2 separate regions of the Homo sapiens genome follow, and region 1 is linked to region 2. The links come from fine-mapping of genetic effects on gene expression. A gene starts in region 2. The other region holds a variant in brackets. All regions are shown on one strand. Distances are between the middles of the regions.

Region 1 (8,355 bases), 330 kb before region 2:
ACATTTGGTAGAATTTGTCTGTGAATCTCTCTGGTCCTGGGCTTCTTGTAGTTTGTACACTTTTTTATTACAGATTCAATTTCAGAACTCATTATTGGTCTGTTCTGGGATTCAATTTCTTCCTGGTTTAATATTGGGAGATTATATGTTTCTGGGAGTTTATTTCTTCTAGGTTTTCTAGTTTGTATTAGAGCTACTATGTTTTGTTAATTTTTCACATTCATTCTAATGTGTTTAGAGACCACACCCTGGAAGATTTTAATTCTTGTAAAACTTTGGGAGTTCACATTATAGCCTAGGTCTAAAGTTTTTGTTTTCGTTTTTTTCTACAATTAGAAAATCAAACTCATCCCAGTTTTCTATATTTATTAATGTATTTTTGTTTCCAATATATTGCAAAAGGTCATTCATTTGAATTTTACCATGGCAGAATTTTTTAACATGGCAGAATTTTAACATGGCAGAATTTAACACAGCAGAATTTTAACTGTCCTTTCATAAAAGAAACAATAGCTTTACTTTCATGCTTCAGATGGATCCATCTTTCTTTGTTGTGTGTTTGCTTTTCTCACTAGTAATTACTACCTCCGTCGAGGCTGCCAACAAATAATGTTGTCTAAATAAAGCCTATAAAGCTGCCCTAGACTATCATACTCATATTTTTTGTAATTGAGTTTCTCTTTATTAAAGGCTTGGAATGGAATTTGCGAAGAGGAAAAATGTCTTATATTTTGTTTTATTGCAATGTTTCCAATCATTCCAATAAGATTGAAACAACTTTATTCTTTTGACATTTAGGTATTCCTACATTAATAATATCAATGAGCCTTATTAAATATGTTGTGTAGTTATAATGTCTGTCCTTTAGTAAAGCGTTTTCCTTACAGTAGTAAAAGGTAGAGCCATGTCAATGAAATTCTGTGCTCTAATCAGTCATAAGATGATTATCCACAACATTATCCATTTTCTTTCTACTCTTAATGCTGATATTCTGTATTTACTAAACTGCATGGCCAGTGATTCTAGAATCATTAAACAATGATATTTTCTTCATGTCTCTTCATGAAAACTATAATTTTACATAGTCATAAAATACATCTGACTGACAGCAAAATCAGTTTCAGATTACATTAATTGCTGGTCAATGATTTTTCTAGCTAGAGATTATTTTACTCATTAGTCACAAATAGGTATGCAAAACTGGTTCTGAAATTGAGGCAGTAATTAACAGCCTACAAATCAAAAAAAGCCCAGGACCAGATGAATTCTCAGCTGAATTCTACCAGAAATACAAAGAGGAGCTGATACCATTCCTTCTGAAACTATTCAAAACAATTGAAAAGAAGGGACTCCCCTAACTCATTTTATGAGAGCAGCTTCATCCTGATACCAAAACCTGTCAGAGAAACAACAAAAAAATAAAATTTCAGGCCAATATCCCTAATGAATATCGATGCAAAAATCCTCAATAAAATACTGGCAAACCAAATCCAGCAGCACATCAAAAAGCTTATCCACTATGAACCAGTCAGCTTCATCCTTGGGATGCAAGGCTGGTTCAACATATGCAAATCAATAAATGTAATCCATCTCATGTTGCGGGAAGTCAGGGACACTGAATGGAGGGACCCACTGAAGCCATGGCAGCAGAACATAAATTGTGAAGATTTCATGGACATTTATTAGTTCCCCAAGTTAATACTTTTATAATTTCTTATGCCTGTCTTTACTGCAATCTCTGAACATAAATTTTGAGGATTTCATGGACATGTATCACTTCCCCAATCAATATTCTTGTGATTTCCTACGCCTGTCTTTACTTTAATCTCTTAACCCCATCATCTTCTTAAACTGAGGATGTATGTCACCTCAGGAACCTGTGATGACTGCGTTAACTGCACAGATTGTTTTAACAACATGAAATCTGGGAACCTTGAAAAAAGAACATGATAACAGCGACGTTCAGGGAACAAGGGAGATAACCATTAGGTCTGGCTGCCTGAGAGCCGGGTGGAACAGAGCCATATTTCTCTTCTTTCAAAAGCAAATAGGAGAAATATCGCTGAATTCTTTTTCTCAGCGAGAAACAGCCCTGAGAAAGAGAATGCGTTCCTAGGGGTAGGTCTCTGAAATGGCCACTCTGGGAATGTCTGTCTTTTATGGTTGTAGATAAGCGATGAAATAAGCCCTGGTCTCCCATAGCGCTCCCAGGACTATTAGGATGAGGAAATTCCTGCCTAATAAATTTTGGTCAGACCAGTTGTCCGCTCTCAAACCCTGTCTCCTGATAAGATGTTATCAATGACAATGCGTGCACGAAACTTCATTAGCAATTTTAATTTCGCCCTGGTCCTGTGATCTCGCCCTGCCTCTATTTGCCTTGTAATATTTTACTACTTTGTGAAGCATGTGATCTCTATGACCCACACCCTATTTGTACACTCTCTCCCCTTTTGAAAATCACTAATAAAAACTTGCTGATTTTGTGGCTTGGGGGGCATCATGGAACCTGCTGACATATGATGTCTCCCCCAGATACCCAGCTTTAAAATTTCTCTCTTTTGTACTCTTTTCCATTATTTCTCAGACAGGCTGACACTTAGGGAAATAGAAAAGAACTTACGTGAAATAATGTTGAATTATCAGGGGCGGGTTTCCCAATAATCTCATAAACAGAACCAATGACAAAAAGCACATCATTATCTCAATAGATGCAGAAAAGGCTTTTGATAAAATTCAACATTCCTTCATGTTAGAAACTCTCAATATACTAGGAATTGATGGAACATATCTCAAAATAATAAGAGCTATTTATGACAAACACACAACCAACATCATACTGAATGGGCAAAAGCTGGAAGCATTCCCTCTGAAAACTAACACAAGACAAGGATGCTCCTTCTTACCAGTCCTATTCAACCTAGTATTGGAAGTTCTGGCCAGGGCAATCAGGAAAGAGAAAGAAATAAAGCATATTCAAATAGGAAGAGAGAAAGTCTAACTGTCTCTGTTTGTAGATGACAAGATTCTATATTTAGAAAACCCCATCGTGTCAGCCCCAAAACTCCTTAAGCTGTAAGCAATTTCAGCAACCTCTCAGGATACAAAACCAATGTGCAAAAATCATAAGCATTCCTATACACCAACAAAAGACAAGCAAAGAGCCAAATCATGAATGAATTCCCATTCACAATTGCTACAGAGAGAAAAAAATATGTAGGAATACAGCTTACAAGGGATGTGAAGGACCTCTTCAAGGAGAACTACAAGCCACTTCTCAAGGAAACAAGATACGACACAAACAAATGGAAAAACATTTCATTCTCATGGAAAGGAAGAATCAGTAACATGAAAATGGTCATGCTGCCCAAAGTAATTTATAGATTCAATGCAATTCCTATCAAACTACCATTGATATTCTGCACAGAATTAGAAAAACCTGCTTTAAATTTCATACAGAACCAAAAAAGACAACCCTAAGCAAAAGAACAAAGCTGGAGGCATCATACTACTTGACTTCAAACTATACTACAAGGCTACAGTAACCAAACAGCATGGTACTGGTACCAAAACAGATACATAGGCCAATGGACCAGAACAGAGACCTCAGAAATAATACCATACATCTATAAACATCTGATCTTTGACAAAGCTGACAAAAACATGCAATGGGGAAAGGATTTCCTATTTAATAAATGGTACTGGGAAAACTGGCAAGCCATATGCAGAAAACAGAAACTGGACCCCTTCCTTACACCTTATACAAAAATTAACTCAAGGTGGATTAAAGACATAAATGTAAAACCTCAAACTATAAAAATCCTAGAAGAAAATCTATGCAGTACCATTCAGAACATACAGAATATGGGCATACAGAACATTCAGAATATGGGCACATATTTCATGACAAAAATGCCAAAAGCTATTTCAACAATAGCAAACTAGACAAATGGAATCTAATTAAAGAGCTTCTGCACAGAAAAAAAATAAAAAACCATCATCAGAGTGAACAC[G/T]CAAACTACAGAATGGGAGAAAATGTTTGCAATCTACCCATCTGATGAAGGTCTAATATCCAGAATCTACAAGGTACTTAAACAAATTTTTTATAAGAAAGAATCAAACAACCCCATCAAAAAGTAGGCTAAGAATATGAACAGACACTTCTCAAAAGAAGACATTTATGTGGCCAAGAAACATATGAAAAAAATCTCAACATCATTAGTCATTATAGAAATGCAAATCAAAACCACAATGAGATACCATCTCATTCTAGTCAGAATGGCAATCATTAAAAAGTCAAGAAAAAATAGATGCTGAGGAGGCTGTTGAGAAATGGGAATGTTTTTACACTGTTGGTGGGAATATAAATTAATTCAACCATTGTGGAAGACAGTGTGGCAATTCCTCAAAGATTTAGAACCAGAAATACCAATTCACCTAGCAATCCCATTACTAGGTATATACTCAAAGAAATGTAAATCATTCTACCACAAAGACACATGCACATGTATATTTATTGCAGAACTGTTTGCAATAGCAAAGACTTGGAACCAACCAAAATGATTGGTTTATCCAGTGATAGACTGGATAAAGAACATGTGGTACATATACACCATGGAATATTATGCAGCCATAAAAAGATCATGTCCTTTGCAGAAACATGGGTGAAGCTGGAAACCATCATTCTCAGCAAATTAACACAGGAGCAGAAAACCAAACACTGCATGTTCTCACTCACAGGTGGAATTTCAACCATGAGAACACATGGACACAAGGAGGGGAACATCACACATCGGGGCCTGTGGTGGAGGGAGGGGAGGGAGAGCATCAGGACAAATAGCTAATGCATGTGGGGCTTAAAACCTAGATAATGGGTAGTTAGGTGCAGCAAACCACCATGGCACACATATACCTATGTAACAAATGTGCACATTCTGTACATGTATTCCAGAACTTACAGTAAAATAAAACAAAATAAATTAATAAATAAATAAAAATAAAATGTCAAGGAAATAAGCCAAAATAAAATCAATAGCTATGTTAGGATAACAAAAGCCAAAGTTATTCACTTAGTATATACATTGGACCATAAAAAAAAGAAAAACTTGTGTGATCTATCCTTCAGACTGATTTGTTTCGTCATTTTTGTGTATTTTGTTTTTAATTAGTTTGAATGCAATTGGCAGTTTCATTTTTACCACCAATTCCCCCTGCCCCCTTCGCTTTTTTTTTCTTAACAGTTTAATTCTTAATCACCCTCTGCAGGCATGTGAAAGTGAAATCCTGCATTATTGTTTCTCTTATATAAAGTAGTCAAGATTACATGAGAAGTATTGACATTCTTTTTGTAATACCTCTAGTTGAACTTGCACACATTTTGGAACTAAATTGTGTAACTATCCTACTACTTTCGGTTGATAGTAATAGTATATCTACATAATTCTTAAATTCAACTTCATTATCACCTTGGTTCTTAGTATGGTTCTGTATTAATCAGAAATTTTATATTCTCAGTTGTGCTTTGCCTTTGTAGCTTAAACAATACACTATAGTGAGAACTACTTTTAGAGCAAGACTCACAAAGTCCATTTTTTAATGAACAGATAGAAATTCTTACATCAATTTGGATAAAATATATATTTCTAAGAATAATTTACATAAGAACATAAATAATTTAATATTACATCTAAAGCAAGAAATAAAATTGTTATTAATTATGTTAATGAAGCAAGCAAATGTTAAAACTAAGTTCCATCCTCTTATCTGCTGCATATAGATATGGTAGTAAAAAATGCATTTTCTTTGAATTATTTGAACCTTTGTAAATACAAAAAATGAAAAATACCTTAGAAAAGTGTTTAGCATCTGGTAGGTGAAAAATAATATGGCTTTCATAAAATCATAGCAGAAAACCACATAGGGTAAATGTGCCAATATTAAAAGACAATAACATTAGATGCTTATAACCTTAAAGTGCAGTAACAAAATTAACATTTTAATTGAACTCAGAGTTTATTTTGTAGAAAACCATATCAGTAATGCAGAAGAAAATTTTGAGAACATTTCCACAAAGCAGATTCAAAAGACAAGAGAAAAATAAAACACACAAAAATGATGAGACGTGAAAATCTTAAACTGGAAACACACAATGAGAACTTGAAATACTCCTTTCTAATAAATAATAAATACATCTGAAGAAAAATTCTTTGCTTTGCTTAGTAAGTATTGGAGAAATGCTGCATATTCCAGAAGACTTTGGCTCTTTCCCTAGGTCTATTGTGTCAAAAGTACTTAACAATATAGCTTAAAAATTATGCAAACCTGGCTTTACTTATTCCATTATTTATCTGTTTCTATTTTTTAAAATTTTTCCATAAGTTATTGGGGTAAAGGTGATATTTGATTACATAAGTTCTTTAGTGGTGACTTGTGAGATTTTGGGGCACCCATCACCTAAGCAGTATGCACTGCACCCTATCTGTAGTCTTTTATCACTCGCCTCTCCTCCCATCCTTTCCCCACAAGTCCCCAAAGTCCACTGTAACATTCTTATGCCTTTGCATTCTCATAGCTTAGCTCCCACGTATCAGTGAGAACATACAATGTTTAGTTTTCCATTCCTGAGTTACTTCACTTAGAATAATAGTTTCCAATTCATCCAGGTGGATGCAAACGCCCTTAATTGATTCCTTTTTATGGATGAGTAGTATTCCATCATATGTATCTCATCTACATATATATATATATATATATATATATGAGTTTCTTCATCCATCCATTCATTGATTGATGGTCATTTAGGTTGGTTCTGTGTCTGGAATTGGTTCCTCTGGTGGGTTTTTTGTCTCACTGACTTCAAGAATGAAGCCACAGACCCTCACAGTGAGTGTTACAGTTCTTAAAGATGGTGTGTCTGGAGTTTGTTCCTTCAGATGTTCAGATGTGTCCTGAGTTTCTTCCTTCTAGTGGGTTCGTGGTCTTGCTGACTTCAGGAGTGAAGCCACAGACCTTCACAGTGAGTGTTACAGCTCATAAAGGTAGTACGGACCCAGAGTGAGCAGCAGCAAGATTTATTGCGAAGAGTGAAAGAACACAGCTTCCACAGGATGGAAGGGGACCTGGGTGGGTTGCTGCTGCTGGCTCAGGTGGCCAGCTTTTATTCCCTTATTTGGCCCCACCCACATCCTGCTGATTGGTCCATTTTACAGAGAGCTGATTGGTCCATTTTACAGAGTGCTGATTGGTCCGTTTTGACAGAGTGCTGATTGGTGCGTTTACAAGCATTTAGCTAGACACAGAGCGCTGATTGGTGCATTTACAATCCTTTAGCTAGACAGAAAAGTTCTCCAAGTCCTCACCTGACCCAGAAGCCCCGCTGCCTTCACCTCTCAGTTCCATGATTTTGGAATTGCAAGTTGTGCTGCTATAAACATGCATGTACAAGTTTTTTTTTTTTTTTTTGAATAATGACTTCTTTTCCTCTGGGTAGATACCCAGTAGTGGGATTGCTGGATCAAATGGTAGTTCTACTTTTAGTTCTTCAAGGAATCTCCACACAGTTTCCCATAGCAGCTGTACTAGTTTACATTCCCACCAGCAGAGTAGAAGTGTTCCCTGATCACTGCATACACGCCAACATCTACTGGTTTTTCATTTTTTTTTATTATGGCTGTTCTTGGAGGAGTAAAGTGGTATCGTATTGTGGTTTTGATTTGCATTTCCCTGATCATTAGTTATGTTGAACATTTTTTCATGTTTTTTGGTAATTTGTATATCTTCTTTTGAGAATTGTCTATTCATGTCCTTAGCCCACTTTTTGATGAGATTGTTTGTTTTTTTCTTACTGATTTGTTTGAGTTCATTGTAGATTCTGGATATTAGTCCTTTGTCAGATGTGTACATTGTGAAGGTTTTCTCCCACTCTGTGGGTTGTCTATTTACTCTGCTGACCGTGCCTCTTGCCATGCAAAAGCTCTTTAGTTTAATTAAGTCCCAACTGTTTATCTTTGTTTTTATTTCATTTGCTTTTGGGTTCTTGGTCATGAAACCCTTGCCTAAGTCAATGTCTAGAAGGGTTTTTATGTTACCTTCTAGAATTTTTATAGTTTCAGGTCTTAAATTTAAGCCTTTGATCCATGTTGAGTTGATTTTTGTATAAGGTGAGAGAGATGAGGATCTAGTTTCATTCTCCTCCATGTGGCTAGCCAATTATCCCAGCACCATTTGATGAAACTGGTGTCCTTTCCCCCCTTTATGTTTTTGTTTGCTTTGTTGAAGATCAGTTGGCTGTAAGTATTTGGGTTTATTTCTGGGTTCTCTATTTTGTACCATTGACCTATGTGCCTATTTTTATAC
Region 2 (8,355 bases):
AATGAATTTTCAACTTTATGATATTTTCAACTTAGCTTGGGTTTACTGGAACATAACCCTATCATAAGTGGGCATGTATATATTTAAAAATACTGATATCACACCGTGATAATTAATGCAAACTTGTTTTGTGGTCATGAGTCTTTGAATTCCTTTGAGTGTATTGGTGGAAATTCTAATAAAAGAATATTCTGCTTTGAATTTTACTTAAATTCATATTTAGTGTATTGCCTTTTTTTTTTTTTTTTTTGAGATGGAGTCTTGCTTTGTCACCTAGGCTAGAGTGCAGTGGCACAATCTCGGCTCACTGCAAGCTCCGCCTCCCGGGTACACACCATTCTCCTGCCTCAGCCTCCTGAATAGCTGGGACTACAGGCACCCGCCACCACACCCGGCTAATTTTTTTTTTTTGTATTTTTAGTAGAGATGGGGTTTCACCGTGTTAGCCAGGATGGTCTCGATCTCCTGACCTCATGATCCACCCACCTCGGCCTCCCAAAGTGCTGGGACTACAGGCGTGAGCCACCGCGCCTGACCCTTTTCTTTTAAAACAAAGTTGTAATACTTAACTAGCTACATAGTATGTACTTTGGGTTAACATAATCAATAATATAGTGTAGGTGGTACATTCAAATCTTTCATTATGTTTCTTCTTAACTTTTAAAATAGGTTGTACTTGATGCCACACTGCTTGGCATACAGTAGTTTCATATGTCTTTGAAGATTATTGGTTTGACTTCAGTTTTCTTTTTTAAAAAAAAGTTAGTTAGATTCTCTATAGCAAGAATAAGACTGAAATAAATAAACCAGCTCTGAAGGAAGAATAAGAAGCAGTAAATACTCTTTGAGTAATAGACGCTATTAAAAATAGCAAAATAACTTTTATTTTCACATTGATGGAGTTGAATACGCATCCCTGCCCAGGGCTGGGAAACTTCAGGACACTGATACTTGTTTTCATTATGAAAGCTAAATTAGCTTTTCTGTGATACACGGTAGAACAACTGCATTGTTCCAAGGCCTTCTTTCACAGATTGCTTCAGGCCTCAAACTCGAGTTAATGGTGACTTGTAGAACAATAGCTCTGACCATTAATAGGGTTGATAATTTCACTTGAGCAAAAATTCATAAGGAGATAGACTATCAGAATATAGGAATTTTGAAAGGCCACAAAAGGTATGACATAGATGCTGGGCACCCCAGAATATGAGAAAGGCTGCCTTGAGCATTTTATTTAATTAAAAAAGTATATAACTTTAGAAAATAAAGTTGCTTACATAAAGTAGATTTATAAACATATACTTATGAGAAAAAAAGTGAAAAAAAATGGAATAATGCCTAAATAATGAACGTCAATAGAAAAAAAAAGTATTTTCTTCCCAAAAGAAGGGAAGAAAAACATCAGTTTAGACAAGAGAAAAGGAAAAAGGAAAATAAAAAACTTCAGAGATACATACAGTCAAGAAAAAGAGAAAAGGAAAAAGGAAAGTAAAAAACTTCAGAGATACATACAGTCAAGAAAAAGAGGCCTTCAGCAAATAAGCTTTCTCTAACTTCAGCCTTAATATAGGCACAAACTGAGATTTAAGAGAAAATTAATGTTCCTTACTTTGAAACTTTTTTTCTGAATCAAAGCCTAAAAATTGAAAATTGAAAATGAGATAGTGTGGGCTGGCATGACGAGTCAGTAACTATAACCTGTGGACCAAATCATACAGTCTATTTTTGTTTGTGTGTGTAAATTAAATTTTATTAGAACACAATCACGATCATTCATTTGCATGCTGTCTTATCTACAGCTTCTTTTATAACACAATGGTTGAGTAGTCGTAACAGAGAACAGACGGCCTGCAAAGCCTAATGTATTTACTATGTGGTAGCTTATAGGAAAAAAACGTACTGACCCCTGGCCGAGAGCATCAGGACACCATTCTTAGAGAAAGTAATCTTCAGTGTGTTCTGAAGTATAGGTTAAAAAATAACACACACACAGAAAACAGATTTATTGAATAATGATTTTATACTTCACGTTGTAATACCTTTCCATATGCTTACAAAAAGTCATGAGATAGGTGCCATTCTCATTTAAGAAATTAGGTAACTGAAGCTCAGGGACATTTAATCTGCAAACCGTAGCACAGTCCATGGCCTGTACACACAGCACACACTGTTGTGGGGGTCGTGTATTACACAAGCATGCCACAGTTTAAGGAGCTGCCATTCATTCACAAATATAATGTATTTATATATTTGTTGCAACAATTATTTGATAGATAGCAATGACATGTATGTTCCAACGAAATCAGTATGACAGTTGGAAGTAAAGCATATTGAGATAGGATGCCTTTATCTTGAATTCACATGAAGATTCCATCTGGGCTACTGATAATAATTCACAATATGATAATATGAAGTTTATTTAATGAATTAGCATATTAGGTTAGAATGAAAAATCAGGTAAAAATGTAAATAAAAGCTTTTAATCAGCAGTGAACCTGATGTGTATTTTTTCAGTTTTCTCCACACTGAAGTGATATCACAGAATTGAGATAAAAATTAACATATTAAAACTAAAGACACCCTATGTTTTGCAACATAAGATTGCTACTGATTCTTAATGGAGACTGCCTTATGCATACCTGGATTCTTGTGGTGCTATTAGAATGGAAATTTTGTAGCAACATTAATAACTGAGAATCTCTGTGACACATGTATCTCACCTAGAGCTGGTTTCCTTTTTATGTTAAATGTGCTGCTTACATTTTAATGTTTAGAATCATACAATTCAGCACTAAATATACAGACCAAATATCTGTAGTAAATAAAACCCTTTGGAGACAGTGTACCTACTTCTAAAAATGAAGCCAACCTTGTCATATTGTTAGCTTTTAAGGTCACTGTATTTTAACACTGTTAGCATTTTCACAAATTCTAATAAAAAAATCCTGGAAATAAGTCTAACTTTTAACACACACACACACACACACACACACACACACACAGAGAGAGAGAGAGACACACACACAGATATAGATATAGATATAGATATAGATATAGATATAGATATAGATATGCATATTACCAAAATAGTTTCTAACTGAATATTTAATAACTTTGCTGTTTCGGAATTGTTTCTTTTCCTTCAGTAAATTTGAAAATACTGTTGTAGTGATAAGAACACATTTAGTAAACAAATGTAAGAATAGATGTGAGAGGTTCTAAATGTAGGTAGAAAGCAGCACAAGTGAAGGAGCATTTATTGAAACTGGGGTATTTCACAGCCGGGTTGATATCGCACCTGAATTTTAGAGAGCAGTTAGGTTTGAAACTGATAAAACGGGAAGAAAGCAAGTAGCTTATCTAGGGCAGAAAACTTCTGGGGAGATAACCAGCTCAGAATTCCCAGCAGGTATTACGGAATGTGAGTCCTGGAGAAGTCAGCAAACGGATGGACAATTGGGAAACTTTCTCTGTGAAGAAACGAAAAACGCTGTGCATAAATAAGATTGGTGAAGATAACTGTGCTGGAAAAGATAAACAAGTGCAGAATATTAGAGCAAAAACTGTGTTAGGGAGTAGGAAAAAGCTGAGAAGACAGCAGTAAAAGCAGGAGGAGTACAAGAGCACATCGTGAGAGAGTGCAGGATTTCCAGGAAGTGTTGACAGTGTCACATGTTCCAGAGGAGAAAAAGAGGAGGAATGGCAAAGGCTGATTGACTTTGTCAGCTACTTACTTTAAAAAACATTTGAGAAAGCCAGAAAGCAGAGGGGAGGAAGCTCCACCGTCATGAGAATGGGAAGCAGAGGCAGCGGCAGCGTGCACAGACATCCTTTGAAGGTTTGTTATAAACACAGAAACTGATGTCTGGGAAAAGGTAAGAGTTCTTAAAATTTTTTTGTTGTTGTTTTTCTGTGTGTATGTGTGTGTGTTTACATTGGGACACAGGTGAAATTTGAACATGCTTATTAGCCAAATTGCCTCAGCAAGATAAAATTAAAGATATAAGAGACTGGGAATAGCTGATGTCAGAAAATACTGAAGATACTGTAGATAAAAACAGCTAAAAAAAACAGTAAGAGCATATTGACCAAAATTTTAAAGAAATATACTTAAGGCCTGGAATAAATACATTTGCACAGTATCTGAAATGACACCTCCTTGAACATAACAGAGAGAAAGAGTTATGGAGATTCTTCCACGTGTTTTTTAATTGCTCAAAGAGTAATTTTTTTCCTTTATACAATTGACTTCCAAAAATACAACAAAACAAAAACAAACAAAACATCCATACAAACGTATGTCAGTAGTAGCTCAGGCACACCCTCTACCATTTAGAAATAGGGTTTCCAAATAACCATCTGATCTTTTCCACACTTTGGTCTGAGATGCTTCTCAGTTTCAACATTTAATCATACTGTAAGTGGGATGGATTTGAGTATTAAAATTTACATTGAATATAGGAACTATTTCAGTTGTGTATGGGGGTGTAGTAATAGAATGAGGAGGTCCTTAGAGAAAACAATATACAAAATCACAGAGGAAAATTAAATTAATCTTATGATAGGTCAAATTTATAATGTAGCAGAATTGTATTTTTATATATTCTGCTTTCATTTTATGATTCACTGGGGCCTGTGAATTATCAGAGTATATAGTACATTTATGTTCATTGAACAGAACACCAAGCATAATTTTATCATTTAAAATTATTGCACAAATTCGTAGTTGTATGTTACTTTCAGACATATTTTCAGTCATGTCTATGATTTATTAAATGCTTGGTCTACCATATAACATCAAATTATAACATTGTTCCTATGAGAAAATATAAAATTTTTATAACAATCTGCTGTACAGTAAGGTTTCTCAGAATACATTGTGGAGACAAATGAGAACTTCCCTATAGCAGTTTTATGAACTATACTTGGCATAGATTTATGGTTTAAGGATAAACTGTCCCTGGTGAATATTTAGTAGCTTATGTAAACCTGATTTTGAAATGTTGAGATACATATTATCTTCTTAACCACAACATTTAAAGCCCTGTTTCAGGACTACCTCTCTGACACAGACTCCACTCTGTGCTCATCTTCTGATTGGTAACAGTTTCATAAAGATGCCCCACCTGCCTTATTCTTTGGACACTTCAATGTATCCTGCATTGCATTTTGACTATACTGCTCTAGCCTTTCTTCAGAATACCACCGATGTTGTATTCTTTATATATGGAGACCAGTTTTGTTAGAGTTAAAGAATGTGCATTACACTGTTTTTAGAAAAGGCAATTCCCCCAGACATACACACACACACACACACACACAATAATAATAATGTGGTGGCACATTAATTAAATCATGGCTGTAGGTGAAATTTATTTAGGAAGAGATAAACCCAAGATTATGCTGAGTTCACAGCACTTACACATACTCTAGAGAAAAGTAAAATCACTAAGCAAAATGATGAACCTGAGTCATGAAGCAAAGGTTTAAGTATGTTCATTACAATGATCACAACAGGATATTAATTTGAATATATTTTTATTTGTTCCCTCTACAGGCATGAAATATTTTGAATATTTTTAAAAGGCTATTACTGTAGTACAGAGTTGTTATATTAATACTATGGTTACATAGAAAATTAAGTTATTTAGAAGACTTCGGGTACAAAACCACATTAGATTACAAGAGTACTATCCTACAAATATTTATATTTAAGATATTTGTCACAACAGAATCTTAAAGTGTGATTCTAATTGTAAAGAAATCTTGTTAGCAAATATCCAAAGATCTAGGTTTAAAATGGAGTGATTGACGGAGAATGAAGATATCATCATAAAACCCTTACACTGCCCTCAATGGATCACTAGAGAAAAAGTTATCATAGCTAGAGTCTGACCTTATGCTGCTATAAAACTGATATATATTTCAAGATAATACTGCTCTCAGTTGGTTTAGCAACCAGATCTTCTTAGCCTTTAGCATTAGAACATTATATGAATAGACATTTAAACCCTCTTAAACATGATATTCAAATTGTTCTATCAGTTGTATCAAATACTTAAATAATGTAGAGGCTACTACATATAATAATATGTTCTGTTACTCTAGAAATTTTTCTAAAGTCTATCACTCCTAAAATAGCATTAATGGAAAATAGCATCCAATGTTTAATAGATGTTTTTCTGAGAGAGGATCCTAGAGAATTTCTATGAAAATGTGTGTTTTAGTACAAGTAATTTTTTTTCTCTCTAGCAGAATCGTTGTAGTTTCTAAATATAAAGGCACTGAAATCAATGAGGGAAACTTATTTACATAGCTATATTAATGCTCTAGATTGGAAATATCAGACTCACTAGCAGTATGTTTATGTTATTTATTCAACAAATATATACCCATTACTGTTCTGAACATTGGAGATACAATGACAAGCAAAAGTGACATGGTTTCTCCTTCACTCAGTATGTAGTTTGTAGGAGTTATGAAGAAAATGAAAAACACAAAATACAGTGAGTTTATTGCTACTTTATGGGTAAGAGAAGAGTAATATTGGGAAAGCAATAGAAAGAGATAACAAACATTAAACTTTTGAAACCTAAAAACAACTATAACCGCAGAGTAAAATGTTAGTGCGGATGGTGGAAAAGAAGGGGTTAATGACAAGGATACCAGAGAAGCAATCAAGGGCTTTGCAAGTCTTAAAGACTTTGGACTTTTTTATTTGGGAAAATTGTGTGCAAAGGCTGTTTGAACCTATCAATCAGAATTAACCAACCTCCTTTTGATGGTGTTGGGGCTTCTTTGGTGTGTTTTTTCATTTGTCTTTTTATGTGTTTTAATGAAGTCTTTATGTTATTATTGCTAAGAATCATGGTAGAAATACGGTGGGCTAGTCATTGGATTTGAATTCAGGAATGTACAGTCCTAATTTCATAACTGATCTTACCTAGATAACGTTTTGGTTGATTAACCTGTAAAAAGAGTTATGCTATGTTCTCTAATTGTAGGAGATTCCGAAAGCAAAATTAACAACACTATTCTTCCAAAGTGCTAATAACTTGGTAAAAGAACAGTATAATAAAGTGAAGATTCACGTAAAGTATTCTATTAAATGATGAATATTGATCAAAGAAAATGTTAGGTGAAAATGTAGCAAGTATGCCATAGAAATCTGTCCCCATCTAACAGAAAAGCAGCACAATTGTAATTTCTGTTGATGTAAAAGCTATAAGATGTTTATTTACTATATGTCTAATGGATCTGTGTTTTGGTTTTCCACTTATTCAATAACCTTTGTCTTTTTTTTAAACGTGCAACATTTTTAGGCATCTATAAATTGTATGCCCCAAAATAGAGAAAATAATTTAATTTTTTAAATAATGCAACAAAACATAACTTTTCTACCATGTCAATATGCATTAATATTTTTCATAAATGTTGAAAATACTTTAATAAAACAATAATTACTTCTGTAATTATATAGAGAAAATATATAGAGATTATTCCTAAAAGAAAAAATTATATCTATTAAATTACACTCTTGTAGTTTATTTAATTGAGTAAATGTGCTACAGAACAATGAGTAGTTGAATAATTGGTAGTCAAAGTTTAATTCTTGTCCAAGCTCTACTTTTTTTTTTTTCTTGAGACGGAGTTTTTCTCTTGTTGCCCAGGCTGGAGTGCAATGGCGCGATCTCGGCTCACCGCAACCTCCGCCACCCAGGTTCAAGCAGTTCTCCTGCCTTTGTCTCCCGAGTAGCTGGGATTACAGGCATGCACCACCACGCCCGGCTAATTTTGTATTTTTAGTAGAGACAGGGTTTCTCCATGTTAAGGCTGTTTTCGAACTCCTGACCTCAGGTGATCCGCCCGCCTCGGCCTCCCAAAGTGCTGGGATTACAAGCGTGAGCCACTGTGCCCAGCCCAAGCTGTACTTTTATTTAAGTATAATTTAGTTAGATATGTGAACTCACTGAAAATGTATACACAATTTTCTGTGTATGTATAAAATTTGATATTTAAATGTATTTATGGCAAGAGTATCTGTAACTTTTATGAACATATCAAGTGGACATGATCACAAAACATGCAATTTATTACCATAGAGCTTCAGAAATACCCCTTCCAAAAAGTATGTATAATGATATGATACTTACAATGGAGGCAACTATGATATTTAACTGTCAGTAAACTGAAAGAAAAAAATGACTCAAAAAGTTTGTAAAGATGATACCTTTCTCTACAAGTTTAGGCAAACACTTCAATTTTTAAACATTTTTTAACCTAATTTTGTTGCTATGGTATTTTATTTTCACTACTTAATTATTGGGTGCCACGTAATACCTCAAATGAACAAAT

Alleles and levels. Alleles are on the strand shown, and positions count from the first base shown. SD is a standard deviation of normalised expression in the study named.
For the expression in prefrontal cortex of the gene that starts at base 3,683 in region 2, allele G in region 1 goes with a lower level than allele T (moderate effect, 0.60 SD a copy in CommonMind).

Evidence for each region. PIP is the estimated chance that this variant, and not a neighbour inherited with it, causes the effect.
Region 1: its variant is fine-mapped to the expression of LINC01099 in prefrontal cortex (CommonMind, PIP 0.95).

Annotation. Positions count from the first base shown.
Region 1 is chr4:178,230,147-178,238,501 of GRCh38, reverse strand. No RefSeq gene overlaps it. Among named protein-coding and RNA genes, the nearest start is that of LINC01099, 330 kb to the right of the region's middle. The variant G/T (reference allele first, on the strand shown) is at 4,014.
Region 2 is chr4:177,903,264-177,911,618 of GRCh38, reverse strand. It overlaps LINC01099 (long intergenic non-protein coding RNA 1099), which reads left to right and starts at 3,683. Exons shown (of 2, transcript NR_108092.1): 1 at 3,683-3,875. All of the region lies in intron 2 of LINC01098 (long intergenic non-protein coding RNA 1098), which reads right to left.